3 separate regions of the Homo sapiens genome follow, and regions 1 and 3 are each linked to region 2. The links come from fine-mapping of genetic effects on gene expression. A gene starts in region 2. Each other region holds a variant in brackets. All regions are shown on one strand. Distances are between the middles of the regions.

Evidence for each region. PIP is the estimated chance that this variant, and not a neighbour inherited with it, causes the effect.
Region 1: its variant is fine-mapped to the expression of SPRED2 in lymphoblastoid cells (GENCORD, PIP 0.95).
Region 3: its variant is fine-mapped to the expression of SPRED2 in anterior cingulate cortex (GTEx, PIP above 0.99).

The regions. Positions count from the first base shown.
Region 1 is chr2:65,318,166-65,325,150 of GRCh38, forward strand. All of the region lies in intron 4 of SPRED2 (sprouty related EVH1 domain containing 2), which reads right to left. Among named protein-coding and RNA genes, the nearest start is that of ACTR2, 94 kb to the left of the region's middle. RefSeq lists an enhancer at 5,324-5,413. The variant A/T (reference allele first, on the strand shown) is at 4,127.
Region 2 is chr2:65,428,352-65,435,336 of GRCh38, forward strand. It overlaps SPRED2 (sprouty related EVH1 domain containing 2), which reads right to left and starts at 4,248. Exons shown (of 6, transcript NM_181784.3): 1 at 3,611-4,248. The coding sequence starts at 3,636. RefSeq lists silencers at 2,591-3,100, 3,131-3,180, 3,951-4,150.
Region 3 is chr2:65,402,836-65,409,820 of GRCh38, forward strand. The region is part of intron 1 of SPRED2 (sprouty related EVH1 domain containing 2); the gene reads right to left. Among named protein-coding and RNA genes, the nearest start is that of SPRED2, 26 kb to the right of the region's middle. RefSeq lists an enhancer at 4,105-4,154. The variant A/G (reference allele first, on the strand shown) is at 4,052.

The DNA.
Region 1 (6,985 bases), 110 kb before region 2:
TTGCCTGCCACCATCCGCGTAAGATGTGACTTGCTCCTTCTTGCCTTCCGCCATGATTGTGAGGCCTCCCCAGCCATGCGGAACTGTAAGTCCAATTAAATCTCTTTCTTTTGAAAATTGCCCGGTCTCCGGTATGTCTTTATCAGCAGCGAGAAAATAGACTAATACTCCCACCTGAGACACAACGGAGCAGGCCAGGCGACCCCAGGTGGTGGTCATACTCCACAACCCTCTGGGCCCAGGGGCTATCCAGGGGCCTTGTTAGATGCAGCTGGCAACCATCTTTAAAACCAGGACCCCCAGAATCCCTACCCTTCCTTCTGCTTGCTTAGAGTGACATATCTCTCCACCCTCTACCATTCCCCAACTAAACAGATGAAAAGAAAAGGCTTTTTCTGATCTCTAGATGCTCTCTTTCTTGCAAATCTACAGGAACTTTCCTTTGGCTACTGTTTCTTACTTGTATATTCCCCTCATCTCATTTGCTTATATATATATTTTTAAATGTATTTATTTATGTATTTGGGACAGGATTTTGCTTTGTCACCCAAGCTGGAGTGCCGTGGCATGAACACAGCTCAAGTGATCCCCCTGCTTCAGCCTCCTGAGTAGCCGGGACAATAGGTGTGCACCACCACCCCTGGCTAATTTTTGTATTTTTTGTAGAGACGGGGGTCTTGCCAAGTTGCCCAGGCTGGTCTTGAACTCCTGGGCTCAAGTGATCCTCCTGCTTTGGCCTCCCAATATGCTGGGATTACTGCCATGAGCCACCATACCCTGACTTATCTATCACTTTACATGTTTTTGTTAGCTATCATAAATCATTTTAGGGACAAGGGCAAAACAAATAGACTTACAAAAGTTCTTTTTATCCTCCTCTCATTTATAAAGTAGTACATACTTAGAAAAAAAGCACTACAAGAATTTAGGAAAAACACACCCATATTTCCATTATGCAACATAAGCATTGTTAGTTTTTACACCTTGGTCCACATGTGCAGCATCCCTCTGGAGACCCAACCCTCCTGGATGTTTCTCTACTTGGGTTTGGTCTATGCCATGCATGGCTGATGCCTGCTTCTGATCCCCCAAGCCATGGTGACTAATTTCAATATGAACACACGGTGCTCTCCGAAGCAATATAGAGAGACTTTTGACAGAGCGGTCAGAAAAGCAGCTGTCTCCATTTCTGTAATCAAGATCTAAGGGTCCTATAAGCCTTGAATCCTGGCACGGGTGTGGGGAAAGGACTTGTCTGAGGATGGGAGCAAGAGAAGCCACCCTTAGTCCCTTTGAGCTGCTGGATCCAGCCAAGCCTGAATCCTGACCACTCGAGGATGTCCCAATGATGACACCAATTCTCTTTTGTGACTTAAGCCAGAATACACTGGGTTTGTCACTTGGGTGCACTTTCCCTTCACTATGGATTCCTTCCAAAGCAGTCCCACAGGCACCACACTCCTGGCTTCTCTCTACCCCTTACTCCTCCCCAGGTTCCCTCCTCTTCCTCACAAACAACTCTTCTTGGTGTCATATGTGTGAGTGCTTATGGTGTGCCAGGCCCTGAGCTACTTGTGGACACGGTTCCTCAGCATGGCCAGCAGGTCACAGGTAAAACACTATCTCCATGTCACACACTGGCACTAAGGGACTCTGAGAGATGGTGAATCCAGGCCATGGCAGCACAGTCACTGGCAGAGCTGGGACTGAAATGCAGCCTCCCTGACCACAAAGCCCAGGGAGATTTCTAATAGGCCCCACACACTGCTGCCTCTCACAGCCAGGTAAGTCCACTTCCAGCTCCTATGCTAAGAGGTATTTTGTTGAGATTAACACAAAACACAACTTCTCCAAGTCACAAGGTACACCCTGCTGTATACAAACCCAGGAGATGAGGAGATGATGTCTCACAGTACAAAGGTTACTACAGATCTCAATAAATACCTCTCAAATGAGTAATCAGGGCCTTTCAGTGTGATTCAAATCTCAAGAGTTAAATTCTTATCCAACAGCCACGTTACAGTCATCTATTAGGTTAGAAGTTAGCCTTGTGTTGAACATTGTAATAAGCTCTCAGTACTTAGTTCTCAGAAGCCCATTTAACACACCACGGTCACCACTGTGTTAGTCATCTGTTCACCCTAACTCAGCCTATTTTCTGTGACCCACTTTTGGGTTAACAATGTGTAGAAAGTCCTTCTGAGAAATGAGGCACATCCGGCTTTTCCTAGGACTCATTAGTCGATCAGAAATGCTACCTTCCGATATTCCCATCCCACCTCCCCAGCCCTCTCTCCCTGCACAGTCCAGTGCAAAGCTCCCCAGACATTTGTCAGAGGATGTGAGACTGAGAAAGGCCTTATCTGATGACGAATTTCTACAGTGAAGCAAGAAGGCCAGAAGACCTCGAGAGGCATGTCCACAGTCTACTGCCTCCTGAGGGCAGAGCTGAGGTTGCGTCCTAGCCGAGCCTGCAGTCTTCCAGGCCCAGCTGTTCAGGGTTGTCTGAACTCCCAGAAGATTCCATTGGAAGCCAAGGCTATTTCAGATGGATACTAACAGATGATTCTTACAAAGCAGCTAGTGTGACCTACAAACAAAAGGAATGTACTACCAGGGCATCTCCAAGAAAGGCAAAGGGGAAAAAAAATCTCCTTTTACCCTCATGCACCTCTGAACTGGCTCTCCTATAACTCTGCCCTGGTTTCCGTGGGCTGCAGAAAAGCAGCCCACCTGAGGTATGCACATACCTAATACACAAGCAAGATTCTTAAACATCTCTCTGTTATTTCTGTGCACAAGCTACTGACACCTACCAACCTACCAATCTGAAAGCTGTCACCTTCAATGAAAAAGTTGGCAATCACATGCTCCCAACTGTATCTACACTCCCCTTGCTCTCCAGTGGGGGTCTAAGAACTGTTAGGGCTTTGAAGAACAAAAGCAGAGGTCCCCTGTGACTACTCTGTGCTCGGGGACTTCAGGCTCCTAGAAGGCATGACTGCAGCATCCTGAGAGAGCAGGTCAGAGTGGGCGTTTAATGTCTCCTGCTGTGGACACTGAGGCTGGCATTGCCATCTGGCCCCAGCTGACACTGGGAGGTCTTGTGCACTATGATGCAGGGAGCACAGCCCTTGCCACCTGCAAATGTACCCTCTAAAAACACTCTTGCCTTTGGGTTTGACTCTGACTCAATGTCAATGCCTGTTGCTAAAAAGATGTCCAGCTGGGTGCAGCTGCTCATGCCTGTAATCCCAGCGCTTTGGGAGGCTGAGGTAGGAGGATCGCTTGAAGTCAAGAGTTCGAGACCAGCCTGGGCAACAAATCAAGACCCTGTCTAAAAAAAAAAAAAAAAAAAAAAAAAAGATGTCCAATTAAGAAGTGTGCAACCTAATATGAGGCACTGAACAACAGAAACGAGGGGAGTATTACAATGCTAAAAACAACAGGGTCTCAGCTCAGGCAGATTAGATTTGAATCATTCTCTGCTAATTATAAGATGATTTTGGTCAAGTTAATCTCTAACTCCAGTGTTTACATCTGTAAAATTGGGCCAAAATCTTCCTTGGGGTTATGGCAAAAATAAAATGGGATTTAAAATTTCTATTTTGCTATACATTTTTTTGAGACAGAGCCTTGATCTGTCACCCAGGCTGGAGTGCAGCGGCGGAATCTCAGCTCACTGCAACCTCCGCCTCCTGGGTTCAAGCGATTCTCATGCCTCAGCCTCCCGAGTGGCTGGGATTACAAGCACGTGCCAACACGTTTGGCTAATTTTTTGATTTTTTTAGTAGAGATGGGGTTTCACCAGGTTGCCCAGGCTGGTCTCCAACTCCTGAGCTCAGGCAATCTGCCCACCTTGTCCTCCTAAAGTGCCAGGATTACAGGGATGAGCTACCACGCCTGGCCTAAAAATTTCTATTTTAAACTGTGACTGCTGGTATATGAAAGTTACTGATTCTGTATGTTGATCCTGTATCTGGTTGTTTTGCTTAGCTCCCTTATGAAACTAGATTTTTCTAAGTAAATCATTTTGCTCACAAAAGATAGTTTGGTCTCCTTTCCTCTCTCTCTCTCTCTCTCTCTCTCTCTCTCTCTCTCTCTCTATATATATATATATATATAT[A/T]TATTTTTTTTTTTTTTTTTGAGACGGAGTCTTGCTCCGTTGCCCAGGCTGGAGTGCAGTGGCACGATCTCGGCTCACTGTAAGCTCTGCCTCCTAGGTTCACGCCGTTCTCCTGCCTCAGCCTCCCAAGTAGCTGGGACTATAGGCACTTGCCACCACACCCGGCTAATACTTCGTATTTTTAGTAGAGATGGGGTTTCACCTTGTTAGCCAGGATGGTCTCAATCTCCTGACCTCGTTATCCACCTGCCTTGGCCTCCCAAAGTGCTGGGATTACAGGCGTGAGCCACCGTGCCCGGCCTCCTTTCCAATATTTATACCATCTTCTTCTTACCTCATTGCATCTTTTGCCAGGGCTTCCAACATGACATGGAAAAACAGAGGGGACAGTGTCCTGCTTGTCTTGAACCTGACTTTGATAGAATTACTTCTAATGAATTTCTATTAGATATAATATTTCTAGGTAATTGGAGTGATTATAAAGTTCCAAAAGTTTCCTTCTATTCTAGATTGCTAAGGATTTTCACCAGATATTAGATGTTATTAGATGATTTTTCTGTCTACTGAGATGATTACAAAATCTTTCACCTTTATTTTATTAATATGTGAATTAAACAGCTTTTCCAACATAAACCTTCTTTGCATTCCTCAGATACATTCTACCGGTCTTTCACTAAATATGCCTTACTAATATGTGATGTGATTTATTTATTTATTTTTTGAGACAGAGTCTCGCTCTGTCGCCCAGGCTGGAGTGCAGTGGCACAATTTTGGCTCACCGCAACCTCCGCCTCCTGGGTTCAAGCGATTCTTATGCCTCAGCCTCCTGAGTAGCTGGACCACAGGCACGTGCCACCACACCTGGCTAATTTTTTATATTTTTAGTAGAGACAGGGTTTCGCCATGTTGGCCAGGCTGGTCTCCAACTCCTGACCTCAGGTGATCCGCCCACCTCAGCCTCCCAAAGTGCTGGGATTACAGGCATGAGCCACTGCACCTGGCCCACTGTCAAATTTTTCTATGGTAACTATAAAAAAACCACATACTTTGAGTAGCAAATAACAAGCTCTGTGTGACCTGGTTTCTAAAGCCCTCTAACAGGGCAGTGAGCTGAGACAAGCCTTTGATGAGGAAGAACCCAGAAAGGAGAGAGTAAGAAAAGAGAAGGGAAGGGGGTGAAAGCAGGTGTCAGAGGGTACAGAAATGAAAGTGGGCACTGCCAACATTTAAAAAAACAAGAAACAGGGACAGGGCTGGCCTGTCCAAATCCTCTATGGTAGTAAAAAAAAAAAAATCCATCCCTGGCCAGGCGCGGTGACTCACGCCTGTAATCTCAGCACTTTGGGAGGCTGAGGCGGGCAGATCACGAGGTCAGGAGATCGAGACCATTCTGGCTAACACGGTGAGACCCCGTCTCTACTAAAAATACAAAAAATTAGCTGGGCGTGGTGGCAGGAACCTGTAGTCCCAGCTACTCGGGAGGCTGAGGCAGGAGAATGGCGTGAACGTGGGAGGAAGAGGTTGCAGTGAGCCGAGATCGCGCCACTGCACTCCAGCCTGGGCGACAGAGCAAGACTCCGTCTCAAAAAAATCCATCCCTTCCCAGAAGGGTTTCTGGGTTTGGGTTGGGTGCTTTGCGGGATGTGGGCTCAGACACAGAAAGTGACCATGTTGTTGGGGGAGATGCCACGTGGCACGGGAAGAGGCAAGGCCAGGTGAGCAGTCCTCAAGCACCAGGCCTCAGAGCACTGGTCAGAGTCAGGCAGCTTCCCAGAGGGGTGTGTCTGAGATGGGTCATAGCATTCTAGATGGGTAGACCAGAGGAAGAAAAGGGGGCTCAAGTTTATCAGTGAACATCTGATCAACATCTCCAAAAAAAGAGCAGGCTTCCAGTTGCCAGATTCTATAGACACAGGCTGTACTTATTTTGAGAATTCAGATATTTCCCATAACTCTAGAGTTTGATGACAAATGAGAGCAACTCCATGGAGCTTCAAAACTTGAGACAGAATTTTAAAAAATAATAATGGACCTTAATGTTATGATGGCTTGACAATCAATCAAAATCTGAGTGCAAAAGACACTGGGCTGAAACTGCCTGGGCTAATGGACTGGCAGTTTCCCCAAGGTCAATGCTGTCTGGTTTGGGTGGGAATCAGCCTGAATGGAGAAACGAGACTAACAGGGCAACACCTCAGGTTAAACCTGAGCCAGCTCCCTCCTGCTGTATGAGCCTTTTTTGTACAATATGATCTCTTGTTCTTGGAAGCTTGGCTACTCTTCCCTCTCTTATGGAGGGACCTTGAGTTTACTGGGAAATTCATAAAGAAGCAAGTGCAGCAGCTCACACGCCCTGGGTCCAAGAATGAACCTTCTTCATGTAGAAGGCCACCTCTCTGACCAAGGGAAGCTCAAGGAGGGAGGGAAGGAACCACCAGGCCAGACGAGCTGAGGAGACAGGTTGCTTAAATTGTCCATTCTGGGATGGAATCCTGGCTGCTGACCCAGGACTTTTTGGGGGCACTTTCTGTGTCTTCAGGACGAGCCGGACAGATTTCAACGTTCACATTTCGCAGGTCTTTTCAGTACTATGCGCATCCCTTCAAGTCCTCTAGGTTTTCCTGCTAAACCTTTGCTTTCTAAAAGAGGGTAGGGGCAGAGGACAAGGAGGCAACAGTTGGCAAAAAGTGCTATGGGAAAGAAAAGGTGTGCCTGGGCTGTTTTCTCAAGGACACTTGGAATTATTATCAAGGGGCACCTGGTTCACAGCCTTCTCAAGTAGGATGCTCCCATCCAGTACATGGGTGAGACTATTAGAGGGCTGGCAATGTGTAATTTCTTCCTTCTTCTTAGGGAGGG
Region 2 (6,985 bases):
TAAGCCTTAAATACACGTTACAAACGCATTTAACTCGGGGTCTTCGATTGGTCTCTGGCTGAATAACCAGTTATAAAAGACATTTTTGCAGACAATTCAGGCAGAGTGTTAAAGACACCAGGGAATTATTAATTTTGTAAAATGTGATAATAGTATTGTGGTTTCACAGAACAGTATTTTTATCTCTTGAGAAGTAAGCTCAAATATTTAGGTACAACAGTCCCAATGTCTGCAATGTCTTTGAAATGGTTCAGCAAAAATACTTACACCTGTTTTATTAATGGGAAACATTTCAACGTTAGGGAAAATATGACTGAAAGGGAAGCTGCAAATCCATTCCCAGCAAGAAGTGGGTTACAGAGAAGAGTTCATGAAAGGAACAAAAGAAAAAGCTGAATGGCAGCTCGATGTCTCCAGGGTTAGAGCTTGGTTCAGTAAGGTTTATCTTGTCTGCAAATTTCCAAACCATTCATAGCCATGATCAAACGCTTTAAAGATAGTGACAAAATAGGTATGGATTTAAAAAAATTTTCCAACCCTATGCACAGAGGACGACTTACAATAGTTTGCTGATGCTCTTCGCTTCTTAAATTATATTTTTAAAAGTCTGTATAATTGTAAATTTTAACATGCATTTTTATGTGGAGGGGGGACGAAAGAGAATGGTCAGTGTATTTTCTATATGGAAGATATCTTTTGGGACCATTATCAACAAGAGCAAAGAAACTTTCCTGAATTACCATATATTAGAAGAATTTTAAATTGACATGGAAAACAACATTAGAAAACAAAACATTATTTTTTTAAATTAAGCACAATTTTACCATTTGCAAGATTCTGATTTACTGCATTCTGATGCTAAATGAAACAGATATTATCTGGACCATTCAACAAAACCTTTACTACATGTAGACTATCAAGTCTATTTTACCTAAAGTACAAATATATCTTTCCTAGGTCTCCAGTTTGATGCCACCAGTTCTCTTAAGTAGCAAACCCTGCCTGGTTCCAAAGGTATCTGAGAGACCTCAAACATAAAATCATTACAAGAAAAAAACAGATCAAATTCACCCAAAGTAGGAATCTAGCAAAAATCTAACCAAATATGGCTACCTTAATCAAACAATAATTTTAGCTCTAGACTTAAAGACAGTGGCAGCAAACAACAATAAAACAACAAAAAAGCAATCACAGCAAGCTCTGTAATTCAGAGAGAAAAACCTTACTGTCACTAACATTTAAAAGGAATTTTTCAGATGCGTCATTACACAGGTACGTTGAACAAAATAATAGACAGTGGCTACCATGGCAGTTTACAGCCCACGAAGTCGCTTTCTTCTCAGGCATTTTAAGTTTTGAGCCAAGGTCATCACATTAAAAATAACCCCTATAAGCCCATTTCTTCAGTGGCTAAGGTGCCAAGGCTTTCTCAGTCTCTAAGTGAAACTAGAACTCCTCAAATATCTATCCTCTCAACTGGACTCGTGACAGCAGTGGAGGCTACGGCTTCATGCTGAACTTGCTCTGAGAGCCTGAAATGGAGCTATTCTTTCCTCGCTGGTGATCCCACTCGAAATCCTTCTGCTTTGGATAGCAGATGGAGAAAGATGCAAGGCTGACAAGCTGCCACAAAAAGAGCCAGGTCAGGCCTGTATTCCCAAGGGGTGGAGCCAAGGTAGAGTGGTCAAACCTCTCCAAGAATCTGCAAGGCCAGAGCACAGCAACCAGCCTCACTGCTACTACTGCTACTCTGTGTGCAGGTACAATCGAGGGCCCATAAAAATATTGATTTATTGGTCACGTTCAAAAGGCAGCAAGGCCCAGCAGCATATTCCTTCTCTGTATTTCAGCCCTAAAAGCGCAACTTTTTTTCATTTTACCATTTTAAGATGCTATATACGAAGACAAAGCAAAACGTCTGAAATAGAAACACCAGCAGATGCGGTGGGACGTCTGCGACAGGCACAGCAGCAGGGATCCTCTCCTGTGACGGCTGTCTGGAAGATCAGGGGTTACTGCAGTCAAAGTTCCCTGGGGACTCACAGGAAGGAAACTGAAATTCCCTTTCCCAAACACCAGCCCCACTCCCGCCCGGACTGGCAACAGCAGACGCCAAAGGATAAAGGGGGTATATTTAATAAAGTGAGTAGATTTCCTAGAGTAGGGCACAGCACTGTCACCTGCTGCAAGAGACAAGCCTCCCAGTCGCCCAGCCCTGAGTCACTTCCCCTCCCAGCACTCTTGAGGCTCAATGCCTGCGGGGGGCAAAAGACCTGGGGCCTCCGGAGCACGCCTTCCGAAGCCCACACTCCCCTGCAAAGACGCGCGCGGGGCCTCCCTCCAGGGCGCGTCCCCGCGGCTGCCAACCAGCTCTTTGCGCCCAAGCCCGCGCCGCCGCTACCTTGGCTAATGGCAGCACTGAATGAAAGGAACGGATGCAGGCTCCGGATTTATGAATGTGCAGGGGAGGAGGGGAGGGATATCATGTGACAATAAAGGAGCGCGTCTTATTCACAAAAAAAAAAAAGTGGCTGGTGGCGGGCACAGCCACTGAGCAGCAGCGGCGGCCGCCGCGCGGTGACCGCTCAAACCCCAGGCATAAGACTTGAGGCGTCGGGCCCCGCGGCCCCGCCCCCGTCGCACCCGAGACTGAAAACGCCTCAGACCAGGGAGGGAAAATGCCAAACTGGACCCCTGGACCGCGAGGCAGGAGGCAGCTGCACCTCCGCCCCGGGCTGGCGACAGTCACGGGTCCCGCGCGGGGCGGCCCAGGATCCCTCCGGCGGAGCGCCCCGAGCATTGTTCCCCTCGGGCCCGCGGGCCAGGCACAAGCCCGTGCACGCGCACCCGCGAGGACACTCACATACACACACACACACGCGCGCCCCCAGCGCGATGCCCCGCACGCCCCCGCCGCACACGCCTCGGTCCGCCCCGAGCCGCCCGACCCCGCAGGACGCGTGTGCCGGCCACAAGCGCGTGCACAGGCACTCACGCGCCGCGGGGCCCCTCGGGCGGCTCCAGCACGCCGGCCCGCGCGGGGACCCTGGCGCACCAGACCCCCGCGCAGCCCGCGCCTGTCCTCCTCTCGCTCCGCCGTGTTTTTTATGAATGAAAATGTGGTATGCAAATGAGAGCGATTCAAGAAAACGAAATGGCGGAGCCTAGGCCCCAGTGGGCTCCGGAGCGGACTGCAGGGCTCGCGGGGCGGCGGGAGTCACAAAGTCACTGTGCAAAAACCCACCAGCCCCGGGAAGCCGGAGTGGGGGTGTCAGGTCTTCCGCTCTAGCCGCCGAGGATTTCGGGGGCGGGGGAGCTGTAAGTCCTCCGAGAGGGAGCGGAGACCGCCGGGAGGTCACCCGCACGCCCTTGGCCCCCGGAGCTGCCACCAGCCCGCCGACCCTAGGCGTGCGCCCGCCAGCCCGCAGCAGTTTTTGCCCTCTCCTCACTTCAACAAGCAGGGAAGCCTCGCGTCCCAACGCCGAAAGGTCAGCGAGTCGCTGCACCCCACGCCAAGTTCACCCAATAAGCGTCCCCGCCCGCATCCTCAGCCCCGGCCCCCACGCTGCCCCTGAGGGGCACCCTCGTCCCACCCCGCGACCAAACTTACTCGTCTGGGTGTGTTTCTTCGGTCATTTTCTTGTTCACCTAGACGCCTGTCCCGCGGCGGGCAGCTTTGCTCCCTTCATCTTCCTGTCCGCTCGCCCCCCTTCTTCACATCTCCGGAGATCGCCTGATTTGGGGAGGGGGGGCGGCTAGAGATGAAGAGGGCGCCGCAGCAGAAGGGGAAGCAGGGCGCGGGATAGGGTTTGGGGGAAGGGGTGCAAAGGCAGGCTGCGCGGGGAGTGAACGCCGCAGCGCCGTGGGGAGAGGCGGGCGGAGGCTCCGGGGGCTCGGGAGCGGGCAGAGGGGGCGAGATTTGGGAAGGGGACGGCGGTGGGGGAGAGCAGGAGAAAAACAAGCGCGCCTCGGAGCGGCAGGGACTGCTGCGAGGAGGAGGAGAGCGCCGGCCGCGGGTGGGGGGGCTCAGTCCGGGGTCGCCCCCGGGGGGCCGGGCCAATCACGGTTCCGGGGAGCGGTCGGCGGCCGGGGGAGGTGCGCCTGGGAGGCGGTGCAGGGCGCCCCGTCCGAGCCCCATCTCTCGACTCCACCGATTTACTCCATATTGGATTCTCACCGCCGCCAACAGGAGGAGGAAGTAGGGCGGAAGCGATGACGTCTTCCCAGCGGCCAGAGGTGGTGGAGTGCAAAAAGCTTCCTACTTGCGACCGAAAAAAAGGGAGAAGAAAAAAAAAAAAACTTTGTCCCGCCTACTGAGCACGCCCCGCTTCCTCTCCCCCTCCCTCCTGGCTTCCACTCCCGGGGGAGCCGCGGAGCCGAGTTGTTTGCTTGCGCCGCGACCGTCTGGCTCCGAATCCTCCTTGATTAGGGCTCCGGGTTTTAGGAAGCCCGAGAGGAGGGAGGAGGCGGGAGCGGAGGACTCGTACACATCTGGCTCCCGTTTTTGCCCCCTCCCTCCTTCCAAACACCAAGATTAAAAATCGGGGGGTTGGGCGGGGGCAGAGATGGGAAACTCAAGGGAGGGGAGGGAGTAAAACAGCTGAAGAGGTGCTCAGGCTCAGAGGCACAACTACCCCCACCGCGGGGTGGGAAGGTAGGGGCGGCGCAGGTGCCAGGGGCTGGCTTCTCCAGCCCAACCCAACCAGAGAGGGGAGGGGGTTCGACTTTGCCAAGGTTCTGAAAGGCAGAGGCTTTTCCGTTTCACGTGAATCTTGTGATTTTTTTTCTTTTTTGTCTCAATAGAGGAATGGATTTTTGTTTTGTTTTGTTTTGAGATGGAGTCTCGCTCTGTCCTCAGGCTGGAGTGCAGTGGCGCGATCTAGGCTCACTGCAACCTCCACCTCCTGGGTTCAAGTGATTCTCCTGCCTCAGCCTCCCGAGTAGCTGCGACTACAGGCGCGCGCCACCACGCCCAGCTAATTTTTGTATTTTTAGTAGGGAGGGGGTTTCATCATGTTGGCCAGGATGGTCTCGATTTCTTGACCTCGTGATCCGCCTGCCTCGGCATCCCAAAGTGCTGGGATTATAGGCATGGGCCACCGCACCCGGCCAAGGAACGGATGTTTTTAAGAATCATTACTCATGCAAAGAAAAAGGTCAACCCAGCACAGCCCAGAAACGTTTGCATTTCCGTAGAAATTATGGAATTTCTCGCGTTAAGAAGCAGCCCCGGCCGGGCGCGGTGGCACACGCCTGTAATCCCAGCACTTTGGAAGGCCGAGGCGGGCAGATCACCTGAGGTCGGGAGTTCGAGACCAGCCTGACCAACATGGTGAAACATCGTCTGTACTAAAAATACAGAATTAGCCGGGCGTGGTGGCGCGTGCCTGTAATCCCAGCTACTCGGGAGCTGAGGCAGGAGAATCGCTTGACCCCAGGAGGTGAAGGTGGCGGTGAGCCAAGATTGTGCCACTGCACCCCAGCCTGGGCAACAAGAGCAAAACTCCATCTCAAAAAAAAAAAAAAAGAAGAAGAAAGAAAGAAAGAAAAAGAAACAAGAGACATAGTCCCTATCCCTTGCTGCTCTCCAAACACAGTAGACTTTTCCATCCTCTTGAATGTCCATGGGACAATCCAGATACGATGTTAACTAAATAGCAACCACTGAACAGGTTAAGAGATTAAATATTTGCCTCAGGCTGGGCGCAGTGGCTCATGCCTGTAATCCCAGCACTTTGGGAGGCTGAGGTGGGCGGATCACCTGAGGTCAGGCGTTTGAGACCAGCCTGGCCAACATGGCAAAACCCTGTCTCTACTAAAAATATAAAAATTAGTTGGGTGTGGTGGTGGGCACCCATAATCCCAGCTACTCAGTAGGCCGAGGCAGGAGAATTGTTTGAACCCAGGAGGAGGAGGCTGCAGTGTACCGAGATTGCACCATTGCACTCCAGCCTGGGCAACAAGAGCAAAACTTTGTCTCTAAATAAATAAATAAATGCCTCAAATTTAGTATTCCTAAAATTTACATACATATAAGAGCCACAAATGCTCCAAAAAGTTTCACCTTGAGTCAGGGATAAACTGGTGGTTTACTCCAGGCTTTGTGCTTATCACAGCCATGATCTCTGTAGACATGGAGTAGGGTTCACGCTGGTGATGTGTGGTGGTGGGGAGGGCATGAACCAGGGGATGGAACAGCTTGGTTCTGGTTTTCTCCTAGCAGTCCTGAGACCCCGAGTGAGTTTCTTTATAAAACAGGAATAACAAGGCCAAGCTTGTCTTTATCAGTTTTTGAGGCCATTGAGAGTTCCTGAGAAAGTACTAAGCAAAGGCAAGATCTCATTGTCTTCCAAATCCTCAGATGGCTAAGGAATCTACCCAAGTCTCACCTTTGGCCATGGTTGCTCTTCTCCCTGGGAGTGCTGAAAGAGATCCCACCCTGTTATTCCTGAACTTCCCAGAACACAGGCACTTACCCATGTCAAAATTATCCACCCTGTGGGCATCTCTTGGGCTCCACCCTCCAGTTTCAAGGTACACAAATGGCAAGGTGGCAGGTGAGGTGATTAATTTCTGCAGGTAGGCCAGCTCTATGAGCAGGTTAAATTGGTGTCATCACCACTCACTCAGCCAGCTCTCTGCTTAATAGCAGCGAACGACTGGCCCAGCCTATGGACCAGGTTGCCAGGGGAACAATGATAAATATTCTGAGGTCCAGAAGTCCCCAAGTCCCCACTGGGATCACCTGGTACCATACTCCAGCTGGGCTATCTCAGGCAGGCCCTTAGGTCCACTGAGCCTTGGGTTCAGTGTCTGTTGGGTCGGAATAGTACCCACAACATAGGGTTGCTGGGAATCTTAAATGGGCTATACAGATTCCTGATAGCCCTTTCCTCTCTCTGGCCAGCTGGTTTACCAAATGCCCCCCTCCACTCTGTCCTTCATGTTCCTTTAAATGAAGCCTGCCAGTTCTCTTCTGTCTTGT
Region 3 (6,985 bases), 26 kb before region 2:
CAGAAAATCATAATTAGGGTTTTAATGTTGCAAGACTACAGAAGATTTGCTTCATTATTAACCAAAAAAGGGTTACACAATGATGAGCACATTTGGTTGAATTGAGAAATATAAATGAATCTATGTTTGGGGCATTTTACACTTCTGCCAAAGAATTTATCGGCACAATCTTTCAGCCAACACTGAACTAATAACATTTGATTTACATCCAAAAGCCAAAATACATTCCCAAAAGCCAGCCAAATACAAAGCTTCAGACTTCACTAAAGGTCCACAGTGAATGCTGAAACGTCCAAGCTCAGGACCGGCTATAAACTCGGCAGTACTACATTAACCATGTGCAAACCAAACAACAGCCTCCTAAGGAGACAACTATTAAATATTTCCAGAAGGGGTTACGGATAGTAGAGTCAACATTTAGAATAAGATCAGATAGACATCCATTTCCTTTAAAAGACAGGGTCTCACTCTGTTGCCCAGGCTGGAGTGCAGTGGTGCATGCATCAAAGCTCACTGCAGCCTCGAACTCTTGAGCTCAAGTGATCCTCCTGCCTCGGCCTCCTGAGTAGCTGGGACTACAGGCGTGTGCCACTGCACCTGGATAATTTTTTTAAAACTTTGTGTATAAGTGGAGTTTCCCAGGCTGGTCTTGAACTCCTGGGCTCAAGCAATCCCCCCACCTTGGCCTCCTAAAATGCTGGGATTACATGCGTGAGCCACTACGCCCATCTGGGATAGACATTTTTACGACACAAAGAAATCCTCAAAATACTAAAGACTAATTGAAATCGCATTAGTGGAAATGTAGTCCAAGGAGTAGCATCATGGGCAGCACCCAAAAGCTGAAGAAAAAAGCACCATCTCAGGCCCCACCCCAGGCCTGCTGAATGGGAACTTGCAACTTAGCAGGAAGACCCCACGTGACTCACATGCATATCAAAGCACTGGTCTGAAAGGCCTAGACCTCAGGTGCTTGGTACTGCCTGTTCTGAGCCATAATTAGGTGAATATCATGCTCAAAATTTCATATACAACACTCTACTCCAGAAGCAGCAGGAGAATCAGTTTCCTAAAAAGGAACATTTGTGGCCAGGTGTGGTGGCTCACTCCTGTAATCCCAGTACTTTGGGAGGCCGAGGCAGGTGGATCACCTTAGGTCAGGAGTTAGAGACCAGCCTGGCTAACATGGTGAAACCCCGTCTCTACTAAAAATACAAAAACTAGCTGGGCATGGTGGCGGATGCCTGTAGTCCCAGCTACTCAGGAGGCTGAGGCAGGAGAACTCTTGAACGCCCAGGAGACGGAGATTGCAGTAAGCCGAGATCACGCCACTGCACTCCAGCCTGGGCAACAGAGTGAGACTCCGTCTCAAAAAAAAAAAAAGAAAGAAAGAAAAAGAAGAAACATTTGTGCTAGTAATGTTCTCCTTAATTGTTTTAAGAATTATGTGTAGGCAGGCAACCATGTTAAATAAAGGGAAAGTCTGTAATCAAATATACTCACAAAGTTAACCATATATATTACATGTATTAGTGAACTGCATGGAAACTAGATATAAGCGCAAGTATATACTACTTGTCTATGCCAAACCAAGTTGTTTCAAAATCTCCTCTCATCTCTTTATTGGATGGCTAAACAGTCTCAGTAATGAGTTTCTCAGGGAGTTTTCTCTAGGAGCACATAATTTAATGCAGATATTCATTCATACTATACCCTATTCATTCATTCAGCAGATACTTCTTGAGCCTCTATTATGCCAGGCACTGAAGACAGCAATGAGTAAAACAGGCAGACACCTTGCCTCCTGTGCAGAGAGAGGGGACCTGGGGTCCCCAGGAGCTGGAGTGTCAACAGACCCCCAACTTTGGGACACAAGATCAAAGAGAAGCCACCTAGCGAGCAAACAGGACTGGCTGTAGGTCTATAAAAAACACGTGCCTGTTTCTTACAAATGAGGGCACAGCCCAGTTATCCATGTACTACCTCCCCAGCATGAACAGACCACCTTTCCCTTCTGCCAAACAAACACCTCCCCCAACAACAGCACACCCCTGGGCCCTTTTATGATCTAACCTCACTTAGCTCCAGGCACCTGCTCCCTAACAGGCCTTTAATTCCTCACTTTCCCTCCTGCCTTGTGACTACATCTGGCAAGGTGTTTTTCTTCTGTCACACGTTATAAACACGTTGTAGAGATACTATAAACAATAATTATGACAATAATGACAATTTGCTAATATTTACCGTGTGCTTTTCTTATGTGCCAAGCATTAGCTCATCTAAATGTATATACATCAGCCCATTTTCCAGGAGAGAAAATTAAGGCTTAGCGTTTATGTCACTACCCTACGTCTCATGACCAACAAGTGGCAGAATCAGGACTTAATGACCTTCTTATGGTACTTTCCACCTTGGTGGAGAAGAGCATGGAGATGACATAGTCATTGAGGTGATATATAGTGATAGTGATAGAGGAAGTCGTTATCCAGGGAGTTACTGAAATGTCCTTTTCAACCTTCCTTTTATCATTCAAATAGCAGTTAACAAGGACAAATTGCTGCAAATCATCCTCGATTTTCCCTCTTGCTTGGATCTTATTTTATTCTGATCCCAAATATTCCTAGCTAACATGTTTAAGGCTGAGTCTTTTCCCCCTCTCATCACACACTCATTACAAATGCAAATAACTGTGAATGACTGTCCAAACGAGCAGGACAAAACTCCCCCAATTAAGTCCAATACACACACCTGAACTTACTGGGGCTTCAACGCCCCCAGAAGATTAATCAGCACCATGGGGCTCCTGAGAACACAAAGGCTATTTTGTGGGAGTGATACGGCACTGCAATCCTCTTTTCTGTGATTACACCTCATTTTATAACAATGTTCAGACATTTGGTTTGAGCAAGTATAGTAATTACATTTCTCACTTTGAACTAATTTAAGCAGCTACATCTGAGCTCCTCCACAAGTCCTCAGGCTTACCAGCCCTTCTCCTCCCACCCAGAGCACTCCTATTTGAGAAGACCCGGACTTCTTTGCTAAGTGACTGTTCCCACTTTCTGTCAGGCACTCCATAATTCAAACCTATTTCTCCAAGCTGACCCTCTTGCAATGGGCAGAACACCCCCGCACTTTCTTCCTGGCACTCATTTGGAGGAGCCCTGTAGAAAAACAACCAGGCAACCAGACTCTCCCACTATCCAACTGTGTGACCTGGGTTTAACTCCCCAGGCCTCAGAGTCCTCATCTGTTAAATGGTGCTCCTGGCCTCTATGTTGGTGATGACACTTCTTTGGGCTGAGAGTGCTACCATGAGATTATAAAAGCGAACCACCCCACGGTGGCAGGTCCTTCAGAGCCACAAAGACCCTGCTGGAGGCAGAAAATTCTGCTAAATGTGCCCTGCAAAGAAAATGCTGAGAAGCCAGGATTTCTTAATACTTGACACCCAAACTTACCATCCACCAACTTTCCAATCCTCCCACCCCATTCTTATAATTTACTCTTTATAGAGGTCAAGAATAAATGGAAATGTTAACAGAGAGCAACACCAACCCTTCCCCCCAAATCAAAGATCCTGGTTTTGCTAGGCAGGACCCAATATTTTATCCACTCATGTCTGTGCACACAAGTTTGTTTGTAAGACTGCAAGCTTTTAGAAAGGCAGTGACAAGGAGCCTCACTAGTTGTAGAAATAAAGTTGGTCATTATACTCTTCGTGCACCACATGTGAGATGTCCTGACATTCCACCTCTGGGGGAGGTTTTGGGAAGTAGGGGTGGAAATGGAAGGTTGGGGGCAGAAAGCAACTCACACTTCACTTTCCTTCTGCTTAGCACATCAGCCCACCTTGCTGTACACAAGAGGCAGGCTAAAAATAGTAACATCGTTTTCCTTTCCACCCTTGCAGGAAGCTAACCTGTTCCACCAGAATGGCCTGATAAAGGCAGCCGCACTTCCTTAGAGATAAAATCCACCTTTCCTGAGAGCTCAGCCTTGAGAGTGAGGCAGGGCCCTCCATCAAGCTGCCTGCCTTGGAGGCTCAGGC[A/G]GGGCTCTGGTCCAAGTTACTGGACAGTGGAAAGTTTAGTCTCTCTTTTTTTTTTTTTTTGAGACGGAGTCTCGCTCTGTCGCCCAGGCTGGAGTGCAGTGGTGCCATCTCGGCTCACTGCAAGCTCCACCTCCTGGGTTCACGCCATTCTCCTGCCTCAGCTCCTGAGTAGCTGGGACTACAGGCACCCACCACCATGCCCGGCTAATTTTTTGTATTTTTAGTAGAGATGGGGTTTCACCATGTTAGCCAGGATGGTCTCGATCTCCTGACCCCATGATCTGCCCGCCTTGGCCTCCCAAAGTGCTGGAATTACAGGTGTGAGCCATAGTCTCTTTCTCAAATGGGGCGCTGGCTCCTTTTTTTTTTTTTGCTAAAAGTCCCATGACAGAAGGATTCTGACTTCACAGCTAATGTGAACTGACAATGAAGACTCCCAAACCACAATAACTTAACAGGAAACTGAGGTGGCTGCAGGTGTGTGTGTGTGCGTGTGTTGTGTATTGGGGGGCATTTTGGGGGGCATTTTGATTGTCTTCATCAAGTCAAGATTCAGCACGAGGGGGTTCTAATCTATTGCTGTGTAGCCATGAGAGCTGCAATCAAGAAGGTAGGTGCATGGCATGCAAACTTCCTCTCTGCAGGGGGTGGGAAGTGCTGCCAACTTAAAGCTTATCTCATTCTGAGTCTTCATGTCAATGACTGTCATGCACATCCCTGTTCACATGCCTTGGAAATCTAGGTTTGGGTGTCTGGTTTGGTTAAACCAAAAGATCAACTCTCCTCAGCTGGATCACTTGTCCTTTCACCCGTGGAGACGCGGTATCCACTCATGCCTCCGTGCACACAGGTAGACAGAAAAGGGTGGGAAAGGTGGAGCACAGGGAACCTCCCCATAACTCCAACTGGAGGACAGTTCTCTCTTCCACTCTTGGGAGTGTCTTAAAATACTAACATGACCGAGTGCAAAGCTCTAGCTATATTTTTACTTCTCAGAACAAACAACAACAAAATATCAAAAGCTGGGCAAGGGAGCCAGAGGTCTAAAGGGGCAAGAAGAAAGAATGTTATCAAAACGATTATGACATGGTCCCTGTGTAGAGAGGCATTCCCTAATAGGCCACCAACCCAGGCTATCTTCCTTTTACCCATCAGTCTGATTTCAGCTCCTCATAAAACCAGTCTCTTGAGCTTCTCTCCTTGCCTGCTGGTTCCATCTTCTTAAGATCTTATCAGAGGAGCAAGATCCTTCCCTTCTGCCCAGACCTTGGGTCCTTTCAACAAAGCTTTAGGCTGAAACTTCTTTCCAGACACCAGTAATGATCACCCGGCATGTATTAGGCACCTCAAACATGTCAGACACTGCTGCGGACACTTTCATGTGCTACATGTAATTTAATCCTCACAAGCCTCATACTATGAGTCCTATTTGACAGACAAGAAAGCTAAAGTTTGGGAAGATAAATATGCAGTATAAGGTAGAGTCAGAATTCAAAATCAGCTCCCCTGACTTTGAGGCAGAAGCTGTTTTTATGATGCCACAGATTCCTGTAGGAATTCCTTGTATCCCTTCTTCTCTGAATTGATCATAGAGCTCCAGGCAAATTGCTCGGACCAGAACCAGAGCCCCCTTCCAATGTCTGTATGTATAATCCCAGTCGCCAGCCACAGGAATTAGTCAGTTACATAAGGGGACTTTTGAAGTTCTTTTTTTTTTTTTTGAGACGGAGTCTCACTCTGTCACCTAGGCTGGAGTGCAGTGGCGCGATCTGCAACCTCTGCCTTCTGGGATCAAGCAATTCTTCTGCCTCAGCCTCCTGAGTAGCTGGGACAATAGTCACGTGCCACCACACCCAGCTAATTTTTGTATTTTTAGTAGAGATGGGGTTCCACTATACTGGCCAGGCTGGTCTTGAACTCCTGACTTTGTGATCCGCCTGCCTTGGCCTCCCAAAGTGCTGGGATTACAAGCGTGAGCCACTGCACCTGGCTCTAAAGTTCTTAATAGCCCATAAATATTGCCCTAATTCTGCCTTTCATCATAACCCTTATATCCTATAGTCCTTAGCCTGTGTGAGACCACAATTACCTGTAGATATCTCAAAAGTCACAGATGTCATTTACAGATCACCTCTTCATCGACCCCAGACCTTTATGCACATAAATCAACTGACTTAATACAACAGCCCAGAAAAGGAAGTATTATGAGCCCTTTTTCTATATTCAAGGACACTGAAGTTTTTGAAAGGTTCAGGTAATTTAACACTGGTCGCACAGCTAATAAGCAGCAAAGGGAAATTCACACCCAGGTCTGTCCTAGTCTAAGAGGTACTGTCTAACACAGTAGCAGCCAGCAGCCACAAGTGGCACTGAGCACATGAAAATGGAGATGTGCTCCAATTATAACATACAAGCGGCATTTTGCAGGTGTAGTACAAAAAAAGAATGTGAAATACTTCATTAGCAATTTAAAACATTAACTGTTGAAATGAGAATTTTTAGATACACTAAATAATAGACTAAAATTAATTTCACCTGTTTCTATTTACTTTTTTAACACCCCTATCAGAACATTTAAAATTACATATGTGGCCTATGTTGTATTTCTATTGGACAGCACTAGTCTAAATCCTATGATTTTACCAAGTTCTACTGCCTCCCTATAATAACACAGCTTTTAGCAATTTACATCTCATGCACTATTTAAAAATGAATAAAGCCACCTTGACATCCTCACTTCTAGTAACAAGAATTTTGTTTCCTGGCAAGACTGATTTGAGTGCTAATAAAACTCCAGTTTCCTGCAAAAAAAAAAAAAAAAAAAAAAGAATTTTGTGTTCTGATGAAGACTTTCAAGAGAAATTTTAGGCTGGGCATGGTGGCTCACGCCTGTAATCCTAGCACTTTGGGAGGCCAAGGCGGGCGGATCACGAG